4 separate regions of the Homo sapiens genome follow, and regions 2, 3 and 4 are each linked to region 1. The links come from fine-mapping of genetic effects on gene expression. A gene starts in region 1. Each other region holds a variant in brackets. All regions are shown on one strand. Distances are from middle to middle.

Region 1 (4,000 bases):
TACAAGTTAAATGGGGGAATTACGTGGTATGGGAATTATGTCTTGAACTTTTAAAAAGAAAAACATATACATAATTGTAAATGCTCTTAACTTGCACAGCACACAGATGAATGAAACCAGTTCTAACTATTCTCCTTTATCTTTGAGAAAAGTTAGATGCTCCCTTTACTGCGGCTCACCTCTTACTTCGAAAGGGCACCGCAGCAGGGCTTGAGGCTGGGCAGCCCTGACACAGCACCCATCTATCAGGAGGGTCTGCCAGGCGCCTATGGGGTGGAATCCTCCCTCCAACTAAAGCTGTTTATAGAGCTGAGAACCTCGGGAAACCGCTTGCGGGTGGATGTGACAAGTCAGGAAACTTGACTACCCAATCACCCAAAGGGGCAATGGGACAGAAATGCTATCTGCCCGCTGCACATGTGGTCACAGCGGTGTCGGGGAAGCGGAGTCTTTTCTTCTGGAGTCCACTCTGCTTACTCCCTACCTCCCCTCCCGCCACCCACCCAGCTAAAAAAAAAAATACCCTAGATTCATAAACAAAAGCTTGCAGTTACCCACAGCCCAATACAAACGACCCGACGCCCTCACTTCTATAGCCCGTGAGTCTCCCAGCCCCTAACAGGCTCGTCTCCCCAGACGCCCCGGGTGAAAAGGTTCGCGCCGCCGGTGGAGAGTCCTATTGGTTCTATTTCTGTCTTCACTCCAAGGCCCCAGGACCGGGGAGAGGTCCTGGTCTAACTTTGGCTGTCCCACGGTCCAAGGACCTCAGCGCTCAGCCCGAAACGCTAAGCCAAGCGTGGAGACCGCCGGGCGCACCCAGCACCCAGGCAGCTCCAACCCTTGGAGTTCTAGTCATCTCTCCCCCACATAGGCTAAGAGTCACCCGGGCGCACATCTGAATCAGCCCCCTGTTCAGATCCCGCCTGTTACGTAGCGATCCTGTCTCTTGTAGAGCGCAGGATGAAGGGGTCTGGAGAAATCGACCACCCATCTAATCACCTGCAATGGTGGTGTTACTATGCGGTCTCACTCTCGTGGGCAAACATATCCATGCGTACCTACGAGGAGCAAACCTAGACAACCCCGCCTCCCCCACTCCCCGCGCGCCCCTCCACTCACTCAGGTCCCAGCCCTGGCTCTCGCGGACCTCCCAGCACCGTCCTAGGAGGTACACACGCGGGTTCAGGACGCGCGCGGACGGACTCGGCCACTCCTGCGAGCGCACAACCTCCCTCCGCGCAGCCCGCGCCCGATCCGCCCCGCGTCGCCGGCACTCACAAGCAGGGGTAGTAGCCGTAGCAAGGCAGCGGGGCTTGCGGGCAGCCGTCTTCTCCCAGCTCCGAGTCCATGAGCAGATAGTCCTGGCTCTCGTTGCGCCGCGCAGCGGCTCCGGCAGCGCCCCGGGGAGAACTGCCCCTCCGGGGCCCGAACGCCGGGCTCTGGCTCATGGCGGGAACGCCCGACTGGCCTGGGCCCCGCTCCCGGGGGAGCCGAGTGGGCAGTTCCAGCGGGGACCCGGTGCGGAGGGTTCGCGTCAGCGGCCGAACTGGACCTGGGCAGACCGGTGCCCAGGGGACGACGGTGAAGCAGGGGGTGCAGACGCCCGCCGCAAGTGGCTCGCCCACTGGCCCGGGGAAAAGTCACCACTTAAGGGGGTGCAAAGAGGATCTTGACCTGAGCAGGTCAGGCCGAGGAGACCCCGCGAGGATGCGTCTGGGGCGCCCGGGCAGAGAGGGCACAGGCGGGGCCGCTGGTGGTAGCGAAGCGTAAGAGCGGAGAGCAAGGGAGACGGAGCTGAAGAGTTACTATGTCAACAGAGACTCTCCAGCCCTCAGCTCCCGCCTTCATCCCCCGCACTCTCCGTCAAGATCCCCACCTTTAAAGGGATCCGAGCGACGTTCTAGAAAGCAGCCAAAGCCTGTCCTGTAGCCACAACTTTCAGGAGGCGGTATGAGCCTGAACTAGGAGGAGCCAGGCACGCACTCTTTTTTTCCCCTCCACTATTTAGTTGGCTCATTTAGTAAGGATACCAACTGCGGACTTCGTAGGAAGCTTCCTTTAAGAACCACTCTCAAAGAGCCAAGGAAACCTGTTCCTTAAAAGGGACACGAGCCTCTTCTTTCTCCAGACTGCCTTCATTTTCTTTGGTCATTTTCTCTCTTACCCTCAACTCATAAAGTTATTATGACTCTGCTTTAAAAATGAACAACGTTCTATGTTCCAAACGCCAGATGTTCCCAGTTCCTGAGAAAACCAACAAAAATAGGCAAGCATTTTCCAATGATACCGATAAAGAGGCCAACAACCTGCTTACTTCAGAGAAAAAATTTTCCTTCCGTCACTGCGAATGCAAGAATGATTTCTCTGCCAGATGTTTCCCACGTTTCCAAGCTGTTTTATTTTTAAGACTTAGTTTTAAATTCTGATTAATATGCATACGTGTGAGAAGTAAAAACTTGTCAACAAGGATGAATCAGTATTTGTAGACCTTTAAGCAGTAGTAGCCAATTAAGAATCCATTCATTAAGTCAACAAATATTTAATGAATGCCAACTGCGTTTCAAATCATTTCAGAATTCGGAGGCAAAGAAGCAGATGAGGCACCTGTCTGCCCTCATAGAGCTTTCGTGGCAGAAAGGGGGACCAATTAAATAAGCAAATGAAAAAATATCAAGGACAAATGCTACAATGAAAATAAAACAGGTTGATGTGATGGCAGCTGGTGAATGACTACTTCAGATGAGATGGTTAAAAGAGGCCCCTCCAAGGAGGTGCTCGTTAAGTTGAGACATGCATGGCAAGCAGCCAGCCATGAAAAGATCAGAGGCCCATTGCAATTGGATGAAAGAAAGCCAGACTGAAATCTGTCTGCAAAGGTGCCTTTGCTTCCCATGAACAGGTGGACAACAAAATGAATGTTGGAAGTGTGGGAAAATGCAATTGATTTGATAGAAGGGAAAAGAGCTCACACATTTAGAAACTTCTGAGTTTGCCTTTAAATTTAGAACTGAAACTCAGAGAGAGCAGAAACCACTGTGTCCTGAGGATCCAGCTTCGTATTTGACACAGGTGTGTAGGGTGCATGCATGCATGCTTGGGTGGGTGAGTGGGTGGGTGGGTGGATGGATGGATGGATGGACGGATGGATGGATGGATGGATGGAAGGAATATAGAAAAAATAAGAAAATGCTCTTGGCCCTGGAAAGAACATTTTCCCTGGGGAAACAAACAACCTGCATCATTCTGAAGTCTGTTCTTTCTGATTTAACAGCCTTCCTTTTTGATCTTTCAACATGTGGAGCCATGATTTAAAATTCTTATAATTTTCTAGTTACTATACCTAGCAATAAGATATTCTTCCTAAAATTTGTTTGTGGCAACTGCTATCTGTAAGTATTCATTAGCTTTGATGCTTGAATGAATTAATCAATAAACGTTTAGTTAAACAGTGCCAAGGTAATCTCTTTGGCAACACCAAGTATGGGGAAAACATTCATGGGAAAAGTAATATTCAAAGGTTTTCTACCCAATTCAAATTCTGTGAGTTAAAGCCAAATTAATAAACATTTGTAGTGTCAGTTGAAGTGTTAACCTTTCACATAAAAAGAAAAAAAACAAAAACTGAGACAGAATTTATTTTGCTGTTGTTACACTGTTTTTCATTCACAGGTAACAACCTTCACACTGAAAAAATTACTACAGTAAACTTATTCTGACATCAATTTATCATGTGGTAAGACATGTTTTCCTCTGTTTTTTTTTTTTTTTTTGAATTATTGTGAGTACTAGAACAACAAGCCCAGTCATTTATTGAGTACCCAGAAGGAATAAGGTGGTGTACAAATGTTAGAAGATTCTGAAAGAGCTTATGACATGATGAAGTGGAATCATTAGATCAGAAGTCTCAAAGCCTGGATTTTTATTTCGGCCACTTCCCTAACTGAAGTTACATGATTTCAGAGAGGTCATTAAATCTCTCTCTGCCTCAGTTTTTTCATCA
Region 2 (4,225 bases), 360 kb before region 1:
GTACTGGAAAAGATGACTTTTCTCTTTAATTGAATAGGCTTCATATCAAAAGAGCTATTTGCATAAATGAGCATTGCTGTGTTGGTTTGATGGAGTATATTGGCCTTGGTTCTAGATGCAGTAGTGTAACTCTCCATGTAGTTTCTTTAGCTGTAATCCACACTGGTAACATTTGTAAGTTTATCATCAGCTTAGACTGACAGAATTTGTGGTGTGGCTCTCCAGGAATGGGCTTGCCAGGCTATTTCTCAGGTCAGGGTCATTTTTACGCACATGGTGGTTTGGCTGACTTCATATCTGGCTCACTGGGGTTGGGGCCATAGGGCTGTTACTCTGGCCAGGAGCATGGGCATGTGGTTGCTTGGTTGGTTTGGGAATGTGTTTGTCAGAGGCAGCCCACAAGATTGTTTCTCAGGCCTGGGATGGGGCACAAGGCTACTTGGCTGGCTTGGGGATGTGCTTACCAGAGGCATCCTGACAGGCTGTTTTTTAGTTCTGCTATGTGGGCACATAGCTACTGGGCTGGCCCAGTATGGCACATATCTGCTTGGGGTGACCCATGGGGCTGTTTCTCAGGCTCAGGACACAGCGGCATGACTGCCCAGTTGACCTGGGGATATGTTTGCTTGGGGTGGCCCACACGGGTGTTTCTCAGGCTCAGGATGTGGTCATATGGCTTTTTGGCTGGTCTAGGGACATTTCTGCTCGGTATGGCCCACAGGGTTATTTCTTAAGTCTAGGATGTGGGTGCACAGCTGCTAGGTTGGGGAACAGACATCAACTCAGCCAAATCATAGCTGATCCTGGACCCAGGCTCCTCACAGCTGGTTGTGGCATTTAGCCATCAGTATGGGCTTGGCATAATGAAAATGGAGTTACAGTACTGAGGAAGTATAGTGGCTACCAGGTCCCAGAGGAGGGTGCACTCTAGAGGTGGCTCTGGTCTCAAGATGGCACTATGCTGCAGCAGCTTGTCTCACAGGGGTTGGTGAGGGGCAGATGGTGCACACCTTGTGTGCCTAGTCTGAGGCAATGCGTCTGCATGAATTCCCAGCAGCCTTCCAATCTGGGCTCAAGGCTTGTTGAGTACTATGGAGCTTCCCCTGTAGTAAGAATGGTAGGTGTTTTCAGTGGCACTGGAGAGTGGCGGGATCATCTGCTTACCTTTTTCCTGCAACTGGAAGTCTCTCCTAACTCTGGGCCAATCTATTCCAAGTGGTGGAGACAACACAACGGAGGTGATGACCTCCTGGAATTCCAGTCACTGCAAGTGTATCTCCACTCCCCTACTGCACTCCAGTCCTCTCCCTTTGACACTCCAGTCAAATCTTAGCTGTTTATTTGTTGTTGCCTTGGTCCTTTCTTGTCACAGACATGCATGCTCAGCATCTCTAGTCAATCATCTTGCTCCAATTTTTTTATCTTTATAGCTAAAGAGCAACATAACAAGAAAATCAAAGATGCTGTGTCACTTTTCTACAAGATGTTTTAAAACATTATGTTTTGAAGCTTTTTCATTTTACATATGACTCAATTACAGTTATTACTTAGCTTTCTTTGAATGGATTTTTGAATTTGATTGCCACTAAACTAATTTTGCTTTTCAAAGTGTTTTGTTGCTATAATTATAACTTATTAGTTATATGATAAGCGACCAAGGTGCAATACAGCTACTCAAAATTCTGTACAATAATTATACCAGTTGGAAATTGTAGCTCAGGAAAGATGTACTGTTAAATGAAAATTTAGTAGTTACAAAATGCTGAGTCAAAACTAATCTTCTTCAAGGTATAAATCAACTCTCCAGATTGACATAACCAGACAAAGAGTTTAACTTTTCTTTTTAGTTTATTATAATGAGAACACAAACAGTTTGGGGAGGTATCTCTTTAAAAATTATTACCAGTATAACAAGACTTTTTGAAAACTAGTACTAAATGCCCTAAAACGAAACAAAAAGCAAAATAAAATAAAATGAACAAACAAAAGAGATAATCAAAATCAGGTGTTTTTTTTTGTTTTTTGTTTTTTTTTGAGA[C/T]GGAGTTTTGCTCTCTTGCCCAGGCTGGAGTGCAGTGGTGCGATCTCAGCTCACTGCAAGCTCCACCTCCCGGGTTCATGCCATTCTCCTGCCTCAGCCTCCCGAGTAGCTGGGTCTACAGGTGCCCGCCCTCACACCTGGCTAATTGTTTGTATTTTTAATAGAGACGGGGTTTCACCATATTAGCCAGGATGGTCTCGATCTCCTGACCTCATGATCCGCCCTCCTTGGCCTCCCAAAATGCGGGGATTACAGGCATGAGCCACCACGCCCGGCCTCAAAATCACTTTAAAAATGAAACATTTTTAAATAAAAATATAATTCAAGACAATGCAAGAAATATAATCTAGAAAAGTTATATAATGATGAGTCTTCTATTTCCACTTAAATGTATGAGAGGGCTGTCCCTGTGATGTATAGACTGAGGAGGCAATTGCTTCTGGAGCATAAGTTAAGAGGCACATCTTACTCCTACTCCTGAATATCTCTGGTTCAATGAGCTGAAATTCTGATCTTTAAATTTCTGCTTCTAGAAGTAAGGTTAATTCTGAAGGCATTCCTCCTACAAATTAACTAGATCCTAAATAAAACATGCATTTTTCTAATGCATTGCTAGACTCAAGGGAGTTAAGAAAATCTCCAAGAATCACCTCCTAAATAAACACATATTATGCAAATTGATACGTGAGTTTAGGCTAGAGTAGGACCACTGAGCGGTAACTGCAGAACAAGCTGGAAAAGTGAAGTTGCCTAAAAAAAAAAGAAGTGCTGATATTAGTGTAGAAAGAAGAGACAGTGTCGTCGGTTGGTTGCAATGTGGAATCGTTAAACTGAACTCAAGTGATTCCAGATTGAGAGCAACTCCTGGCTTTTAGTAGAAGTGGTGCAAATCCTCTCTGGAAGATAACAACTTCTATTTAGACTGCAAGATTTTCATAGATTAAGCTCAAGCAAATTTAGCTCAAAATAAAGATCAACAAAACCACAAAAGAGATGACTGTATGACTGAAATTTAGCAAAAACAAGAGAGATTTCCCCAAGGGTTTTGGATATTGAAACTAAGAAACAGAGAACACAATATAACTAAAAATGAAGTGTCTAAAAATATAAAAAAAAACAGAATCTAAAATGCAAAAGCAGAGACCTCAGGAAATTACTAGGATCATTTTGAAAAAAATAGAAATTTTAGGTATAAAAAATAAAATTGTTTTAAAAAATCAATATTAAATAGCAGATCAGACATAGCTGAAGAAAGATGTGAACTGGAAGATAAGCCAAAATAAATCACTTAGAATATAGTACATAGAGAAGACAAAAATATAGAAGAAAGTTTTAGAAATATGAAGGAAAGAATAAGATTCAATATAAGGCAAAGGAACTGCTACAAAGTCAGAATAGAGGAAATTTAAGAGAGTGAATATTTGCAGAAATAATAGCTAAAAATAGATGAAAAATATGAATCTACACAGAGGGAACCAAACCAACGCAAATACCGTGCAGGATAAATTAGGAAAAAAGTACACCTTCACACTTTGTGATGAAACAGCATAAAACCAAGGAGAAGCTCATAAAAGCAGGCATAAAGGCCAGGCAGATCATCTATGAAGAGGTGACAACAGTGAAATGTGTAAGATAAAAGAATTGCTGAAATAAATAAAGAAAATGACTACAGACAGCAGGTAGGAGACAGAAAAAAGAAATGGTGCTCAAATATGTTGGTAAACATATAGGTAAACATTGTCTTTATAAGATACTAAAAATAGTGCTATCTTATTTATAGGTTAAAAAGGAAACAGAACTAAAGAAAAACATGTTAATTGGGAGGAGAGAGTGATAGTAAAGTGTTCTAGAACACTGCTTAATACTTTATCAACTTGTTGATGGTTTTAAACAAGATTATTCTCATTTAATGAGTTGTCTAGCCACTTTGAAAATGTAGGATGGACCCCCATACAAAATTTGGTTCAAATGTCAAGATTGATGAACACACACACACACACACACACACCCAACAGGGTATGAAGAAGTTTATTACTCATACAATAAGATTTGCTGGGGAGGCCGGGCGCAGTGGCTCACGCCTGTAATCCCAGCACTTTGGGAGGCCGAGATGGGCGGATCACGAGGTCAGGAGATCGAGACCATCCTGGCTAACACGGTGAAACCCCATCTCTACTAAAAATACAA
Region 3 (4,225 bases), 310 kb after region 1:
GGGTGCAATCAACTGAAATCATTCTCACCCTCTTTCTGACCCCAAAAGTTCTATCAGTATTCTGTATTTCCAGTGTTACTTATCTTCCCCTTTATATTGGGAGCAGTTAAAGACCTGGGAACATATATCATTTATTTTTTGATTTCTAACACTAAATATACATAATGAACAAGTACCACAAACAGCAACAAGGGAGTTGAATTTAGTGCTTTTTAACTCAAATGCCTTTACATTTTCAGCATTAAAATGCAAGTTTAACATCAAGTATTTTGAAGTTCTGACAAATTAAATTTATTTGGAAATGAGCAGATGCATCAAAGTATAATGAAAAAACACTAAACTTGTTGTTCTGTCAGCCTGGATTCTTGCCTTGGCTCAGGTGACGTGATCTGGGAACGTTGGGCAAGTCACTTTATCACTCAGGTTTTTTCACCTGTAAAGTGAGATGACTAGAGATCATCTCTAACAGTCTGTCACTTCTAAATGTCAGCCTCTCTGAACATGAAAATGAAAATGCCTTCACAGCCTACTCCACAGGCTCTCTATCCAAAGAATCAACTGAGATTACATAAGGCAAATTGTTTTAGAGACTATAAAGCACTTCAGAAGCATGAGGTAGTACAATGATCATAACAAAGTTTCAAAACTCAAGACTTGGCCAGCTTTCTTATTCCTAATCTATCCTGTTATCAGTTATGTGTTATATACAAAGACAAATGCATTATTTTTATCTTCACTTAATAATGAGTCAGTTATAATTTAGATCTGGATAATTTTAGGAATAAAAAAAATCTTACCAGCATTTCCTGAATACCGTCCTAAGTGCATTTTAAAAAATCTCGTTTCATCCTCTAGCCAAAAATTATCATATGATGCATAAGCAAGAGTGTCATCTTCAGATTCCAAAGCCACATACAGCATAAAACTGGTATTTTTCTGATTTACTATATAAAAAATCTTTTTCAGTCCTAGCCAAAATTCTCCTGTAAAAAAAATGCTTTGTTTTAATATATTTTAATACAAATTAGAATAATGGTTTATTATTGAATGTTTGGTCTTGTTTAGCATTTCAAAAACTCTGAGATGGCTCAGATAAGTAATTAAAGGCACTGGATGACCTAGCTCAAATTATCAGTGCTTACCTACTTCATAAAACAAACAAAATTCCTACTTCTACTTCACCAGACTTGAGAAAATCAGACCCTTTTTCATTTTTATCTCCCCAAATTAAGTAAAATTTGAGGAGAGAAGATAATAATGATCTCCCCAAATTTTATCTCCCAAAATTAAATTAGTCTTCATTTAAAGAATAAAATAGAAAGTCAAATTTTACCTTAAGGCATTTCAACATAAAACCAATTGAAATATTATGGCAGGTAACAAAACGTTATTTACCAGTAAATGAGAAGGTTTAACCTCCAAATCAGCGGTTCCTGAAGAAAAATTTCCTAAAAACACTCAGTTGAAATTATTTTTTTCTGTCTTGGAATACTTTCTTAACAGACACTTCTTTGCTACAATGCAGCTGGTTAATTTCCTATGCCCTGAACATAATGTAATAACATTGGAATATCCCCGGGTTTAGGATCAATATTTCCAAGACAATTATAGATTCAGGATGAAATATAAAACTCCCCAACTCGGACTGCATACTTCTTGCATACATATTCTAGCCAATGGCTTTCTACCTCTCCCTACCCACGTGGCATAGCCCAAATGTGTATATCTCTGCTCTGAGATATATGCCTCTACTTGAATCATAAAATTATTAAAGAAAATAAGGGTCCAGTCAAAACAAACTTCAGAGTTGGAGAATAACATGACAGCATTCAAACTCTTCAAATTATAGCTAAGATATTAAGTCTTTCTTCAGAGCTCACAGGGGCAGACATTTTAGCAACACGCTCACTTACAATCGAAAAGTAAGGAGAGAAAGTGGGCCCAGTAAAATGGCTCCAGAGGGGTCCACTGAGTCTCACACAGTATACAACACTTCAATTTAAGTGCCCCTGCCATCATTTCCCAGTACCCCACCCTCAAATTTAAGACTTAAAAATACATTTTCTGTAATCCTATATTTATTTATTTATTTATTTATTTATTTATTTATTTATTTATTTATTGAGAGTCTAACTCTGTCACCCAGGCTACGGTGCAGTAGTGCGATCTCGGCTCACTGCAACTTCCGCCTCCCCCCAGTTCAAGCGATTCTCATGCCTCAGCCTCCCAAGTAGCTGGGATTACAGAGGCATGCACCACCACCCCCAGCTAATTTTTGTGTTTATTTTTTATTATACTTAAGTTCTGGGACACATGTGCAAAATGT[G/C]CAGGTTTGTTACACAGATATACATGTGGCATGGTGATTCGCTGCACCCATGAACTCGTTATCTACATTAGGTATTTCTTCTAATGCTATCCCTCCTCTAGCCCCCACCCCCTGACAGGCTCCTGTGTGTGATGTTCCCCTCCTTGTGTCCATGTGTTCTCATTGTTCAACTCCTACTTATGAGTGAGAATATGCAGTGTTTGGTTTTCTGTTCCTGTGTTAGTTTGCTGAGAATGACGGTTTCTAGCTTCATCCATGTCCCTGCAAAGGACATGAACTCATTCTTTTTATGGCTGCATAGTATTCCATGGTGTATATGTGCCACATTTTCCTTATCCAGTCTATCATTGATGGGCATTTGGGTTGGTGCCAAGTCTTTGCTGTTGTGAATAGTGCTGCAATACACGTACATGTACATGTGTCTTTATAGTAGAATGATTTATAATCCTTTGGGTATATACCCAGTAATGGGATTGCTGGGTCAAATGGTATTTCTAGTTCTAGATCCTTGAGGAATCACCACACTGTCTTCAACAATGGTTGAACTAATTTACACTCCCACCAACAGTGTAAAAGCGTTCCTATTTCTCCACATCCTCTCCAGCATCTGTTGTTTCCTGACTTTTTACTTATCACCATTCTAACTGGTGTGAGATGGTATCTCCTTGTGGTTTTGATTTGCATTTCTCTAATGACCAGTGATGACAAGCTTTTTTTCATATGTGGTTGGCCGCTTAAATGTCGTCTTTTGAAAAGTGTCTGTTCATATCCTTTGCCCACTTTTTGATGGGCTTGTTTGTTTTTTTCTTGTAAATTTGTTTAAGTTATTTGTAGATTCTGGATATTAGCCCTTTGCCAGAAGGATAGATTGCGAAAATTTTCTCCCACTCTGCAGGTTGCCTATTCACTCTGATGATAGTTTCTTTTGCTGTGCAGGAGCTCTTTAGTTTAATCAGATCCCATTTGTCAATTTTGGCTTTTGTTCAAATTGCTTTTGTTGTTTCAGTCATGAAGTCTTTGCCCATGCCTATGTCCTGAATGGAATTGCCTAGGTTTTCTTCTAGGGATTTTATGGTTTTAGGTCTTACGTTTAAATCTTTAATCTATCTTGAATTAATTTTTGTATAAGGTAAAAGAAAGGGATCCAGTTTCAGTTTTCCGCATATGGCTAGCCAGTTTTCCCAGCACCATTTATTAAAAAGGGAATCCTTTCCCCATTGCTTTTTTTGTCAGGTTTGTCAAAGATCAGATGGTTGTAGATTTGTGGTGTTATTTCTGAGGCCTCTGTTCTATTCCATTGGTCCATATATCTGTTTTGGTACCAGTATCAAGCTGTTTTGGTTACTGTAGCCTTGTAGTATAGTTTGAAGTCAGGTAGCATGATGCCTCCAGCTTTGTTCTTTTTGCTTAGGATTGTCTTGACTATACAGGCTCTTTTTTGGTTCCATATGGAATTTAAAGTAGTTTTTTCTAATTATGTGAAGAAAGTCAATGGTAGCTTGATGGGAATAGCATTGAATCTATAAATTACTCTGGGCAGGCACAGTGGCTCATGTCTGTAATCCCAGCACTTTGGGAGGCCGAGGCAGGTGGATCACCTGAGGTCAGAAGTTCAAGATCAGCCTGATCAACATGGTGAAACCCCATCTCTATTAAATTACAAAAATTAGCTGGGCATGGAGGCAGGCACCTGTAATCCCAACTACTCGGGAGGCTGAGGCAGGAGAATCGCTTGAACCCAGCAGGCAGAGGTTGCAGTGAGCCAAGATCACGCCATTGCTCTCCAGCCTGGGCAACACGAGTGAAACTTCGTCTCAAAAAAAAAAATTACTTTGGGCAGTATGGCCATTTTCATGATACTGATTCTTCCTATTTATGAGCATGGCATGTTTTTCCATT
Region 4 (4,225 bases), 67 kb before region 1:
CATGCTGAGTTGGGAATCCTTACTCTGTCAGTTACTACCTGTGTCATCCCTCTGAGCCTCGGATTCCTTAACTGTAAAAATGGAAAGGGAACAGCATCAAGGATAGCAGTTACCTGTTAGGGTTACTATGAAATTGGTGATTTGTGGAATTCTGCTTAAGGTAATTCAATGCCTCATCTGTCATGGACTTTAAATCCTTCTTAATCATAATTATTCAAGACTTTCCAGTTTGAAGATGTGCTGCTTAATAAAGGAGATAGAAACTAAGAAATCATTAAATGGCTTCTCTTCCTTTAATGCCAGCTGTTACATCTGCACCATGTGTCCAAAGAACACAGTTTGACCTCGTTTGTTTTTTTTGTTCGTTTGTTTTTTCCCTTGCTGTGATGTCAACATGGCCAAATGGGCATTATGTTTTTAATCTTCGGAATACTCTGTGCTTTGTTTTGCTGCCACTATTCTTGAAGTGTATTCTATTCTTATACCTTCATCTGTGACTATATATTTCCCTTTCCCTTCTTACCTATATTCTTTAAACCTGAACTTATCATTGAATTCCTGTGCCAAGCACAGAGCCAGACACAAAATGTTTTATGCATCTACAAATGAATAAAAAAGCAACATGAAAAGAAAAACGAATGGAGAGCACCCTAGTTTGTCACAGTTTTTAGGAGTTTCTCAAATTATTTTACTCCATTTCAAGAAACTTTTTAAAAATTAGAATTTCACAGTATTTTAAACAAATTTTTACTTGTCATAAAGTGAAATGTACTTATCCACCCTAAGTAAAAATGAAATATAGCAATTTGATGGAGTTTGATTTTGAGTATACTAATCATGTCAAGTAAATTATAAGTTTACTATATATTTAGCCCTGTTTCTCTAGCTTTATCAATAAAAATATTATATAAACTTGTAGGTACACATATATTAAATTAATTTCACTAAGGCTAGGAGGATGGAAATTGATATTTATTAAAAGTTTTTACTATGACCAAATAACTTTATAGGTGTTATTTTATTTAATTTTCACGGCATTTGGTGAGGTTGGCTTTGTTATTTCACTACATGAGGAAATGTTTGGAGATCACTCCTGAACAGGCATGGCATATATAAGGAAAAATGTTTGGGGGCTTTTGTTTTCTGAATTTCTTTTAAAATGCAGCTGGGAAAAAAAAAAAAAAGCAGAGTTTCAATATCCCCTCCCCAAAAACTGTGAAAATTTGTGGATTTCAACAATACCTAGGATTAGTTATGAACTGATTGATACATAGAAACTTCCCTCTTAAGTTCATGCTAGCAATGCATGGTAAGGCAAGACTGTAAACCTAGGTTTGCAGATGTCCTATTTCATTTCTTAAATCTTATTTTTTATTATTGTGACGCACACATGCTGAAAAGAACTACAATTTTAAGATTAATAACAAAATTAACACCATTTTCCTACCCATCCCCACTTAAGAATGTGATCGCTGATCATTTTAAAGACCTCTGTGTGCCTATTTAAATTACTATCTTCCCCTGAACCCCAACGACCAACCATTATCTGGTTTTTATGTTAAGCACTCTCTTATTTTTTATAGCTTTTCCATCTTTGCATGCCCTAAACAATACAAATTAGCTCAAAAAAAGTAAGTACTTAGCACAAACTTGGTAGAATAAGGAAGGGAAATACTGCCACTGCTATATTCTTAGAGGAAGGCTCCTAACATGAGATAAGCAGAGCAGAACCTGTGGTTCATTATCTGGCTCCAGCTTCCCTGAGAGTTTGCAAGAGCCCCTGTAGGTTGCTCAGGGGGTGACCATGAATTTCATCCTGGGAACGCAGGGTTCCTCAGAGCTGCAGCAGCTAGCCGAGTAGCCAGCAGGGCATCTGGCCATGCATCTGCTGCTGTCTACTCTCTTCTCTGCTATAAAAGAGCAGGTCAGAACACATTACCTCAGAGGCGAGAGAGGGCTCACCCTCACTGAACTCTTCCACATTGCCTTTAGGAGTAAGGCTGTCAATCAAGGTTTTTTGCCATGTTTCCCCTTTTGCCCACATTTTTTTAAAACCAATTTTACAAAAGCAAAACACTGAACTACGCTGAAAGCTACATAATATGAACAGCCAGTAGCTGGAAAGCTACCCATTATGTTGAA[C/G]CAGAATGGAATTTGTCTATATCCATTTGCAGCTGTATTCAGTTTTCAGAGATGTGATCAATGTGCCTCTACTTACAATAGTATGTTCAAGCTATAAAAGTTATATGACTTCCCTAAAGGAAGGTGAAAAGGAAAACAAATTCAGTCAAACTAGTGAAGCCATTGCTTTGGTACACCATAAAGCAAATCTAGTTGACTAAAGCCCTGGTGTTTTGGTATAACATGAAAGAAAAGTTCTATTTTCCACGGACAAATTATTCTTATCTTACCCTTTTTCTCTTATGCTAAGAATGCTTGTTTTCAGTCTTTACAGATATAACTCAAACCATTTTTACTAATTGTCTTTTTATTCCTATGCTAGTAAATTTAAATTTGAGAACTCTGCCGAAGGCTCATGTTTCCTCTATGTATCCTACTCGGTGATTCTTTATTACTGCCATTAGTCACTGACTGAATGCTAGTTATTTAAGTGTTTGCATGCATGGAATACATTTCTGCATTACTTCCACTTTACCCACCAAAGTAATAATGATAGAACCACAAGTTTTAAGTTCCAGAAGGGTATTTAAAATTGTTTCAACCTTATCACTTTTCAAGTAACTGCTTTAAGTTTTTCTAGAGGAGGGAATATATAAAAATTATTAATTATATAGTTAATTTCTACCTGAAGAAACCAAGATACAAACTAACTTGCCCAATGTTAAACAGCTACTTAGAACCCTCAGCTGTTAGATCATTTTTATTCCAAAATGCTATTACCTAAAAACAAATGTTATTGAAAGGAAATTAGTTTCTGGTCCTGTTAAGGAGAATTTTCTTATGATGAAGATCCAGTTCAATAAACAACATATTGTTCTCTAGATATTCCCATAGCTGGTGTTAAATTTGTTCCCATTTATACTGTGGCCAATGAAAGCAGAAGAATTGGCCTAGATTAAAAAGTTGTTTGAGTCAATAATCCTCAGATCTTAGCTGGAGCTCAGAGTTGTGATATACTGGTATATCTGCTCATGAGATGTTATTGTGGAACTTAATCAATAGAATCAGCCAGATTTTTGCCACCATTTCAGTTGAAAGAAAAGCATCATTTGCCCTCTTTGGTCTTCTGTTTCCTTGCTTTTAAAGTAATCTCTCTTCTGCACAGCAAAGGACACAATCAATAAAGTAAAGAGACAACCCACAGAATCGAAGAAAATATTTGCAAACTGCCCCTCTGACAAGGGATTAATAACCAGAATATATAAAGTGCTCAAACAACCATACAGGAAAAAAAATTAATAATCTAATCGAAAAATAGGCATAATATTTGAATAGAAATTTCTCAAAAGAAGACATACAAATTGCAAACAGAAATATGAAAAGATGCTTAACATCATTGATCATCAGAGAAATGCCAATCAATACTACAATGAGATGTCATCTCACCCAAGTTAAAATGAATTATATCCAAAAGACAGGCAATAACAAATGCTGGTGAGGATGTGAAGAAAAGGAAACCCTTGTACAGTGTTGGTGGGAATGTAAATTGGTACTATGAAGAATAGTTTGGAGGTTCCTCAAAAAACTAAAAATTGAGCTGCCATATGATCCAGCAATCCCACTGCTGGGTATATACACAAAAGAAAGGAAATCAGTATATCAAAGAGGTAGCTGCACTCCCATGTTTGTTGCAGCACTGCTTACAACAGCTAAGATTTGGAAGCAACCTAAGTGTCCATCAACAAATGAATGGATGAAGAAAATGTGGTACTTATACGCAATGGAGGACTAGTTAGCCATAAAAAAGAATGAGATCCAGGCATTTGCAACAACATGGATGGAAGTGGAGATCATTATGTTAAGTGAAATAAGCCAGGTACGGAAAGACAAGCTTTGCATGTTCTCACTCATCTGTGGGAGCTAAAAATTAAAACAATTGAATTCATGGACACAGAGAGTAGAAGAATGGTTACCAGAGGCTGGGAAGGGTACTGAAGGTTTGGGACGAGTTGGGGATGGTTAAGGGTACAAAAAAGAAGAAAGAATGAGTAAGACCTACTATTTGATAGCACAATAGGTTAACCATAGTCAATAATGACTTAAC

Evidence for each region. PIP is the estimated chance that this variant, and not a neighbour inherited with it, causes the effect. A credible set is the group of variants that fine-mapping cannot tell apart.
Region 2: its variant is the best candidate, but not a certain one, in a credible set for the expression of TRPC6 in blood mononuclear cells (TOPMed, PIP 0.86).
Region 3: its variant is the best candidate, but not a certain one, in a credible set for the expression of TRPC6 in subcutaneous fat (GTEx, PIP 0.53).
Region 4: its variant is the best candidate, but not a certain one, in a credible set for the expression of TRPC6 in whole blood (TOPMed, PIP 0.82).

What each region holds. Positions count from the first base shown.
Region 1 is chr11:101,582,056-101,586,055 of GRCh38, forward strand. It overlaps TRPC6 (transient receptor potential cation channel subfamily C member 6), which reads right to left and starts at 1,952. Exons shown (of 13, transcript NM_004621.6): 1 at 1,279-1,952. The coding sequence starts at 1,448.
Region 2 is chr11:101,223,942-101,228,166 of GRCh38, forward strand. No RefSeq gene overlaps it. Among named protein-coding and RNA genes, the nearest start is that of PGR, 96 kb to the left of the region's middle. The variant C/T (reference allele first, on the strand shown) is at 2,039.
Region 3 is chr11:101,894,082-101,898,306 of GRCh38, forward strand. ANGPTL5 (angiopoietin like 5) reads right to left here. Exons shown (of 9, transcript NM_178127.5): 8 at 798-983. Among named protein-coding and RNA genes, the nearest start is that of CEP126, 19 kb to the right of the region's middle. The variant G/C (reference allele first, on the strand shown) is at 2,327.
Region 4 is chr11:101,514,939-101,519,163 of GRCh38, forward strand. The region is part of intron 1 of TRPC6 (transient receptor potential cation channel subfamily C member 6); the gene reads right to left. Among named protein-coding and RNA genes, the nearest start is that of MIR3920, 2.9 kb to the right of the region's middle. The variant C/G (reference allele first, on the strand shown) is at 2,143.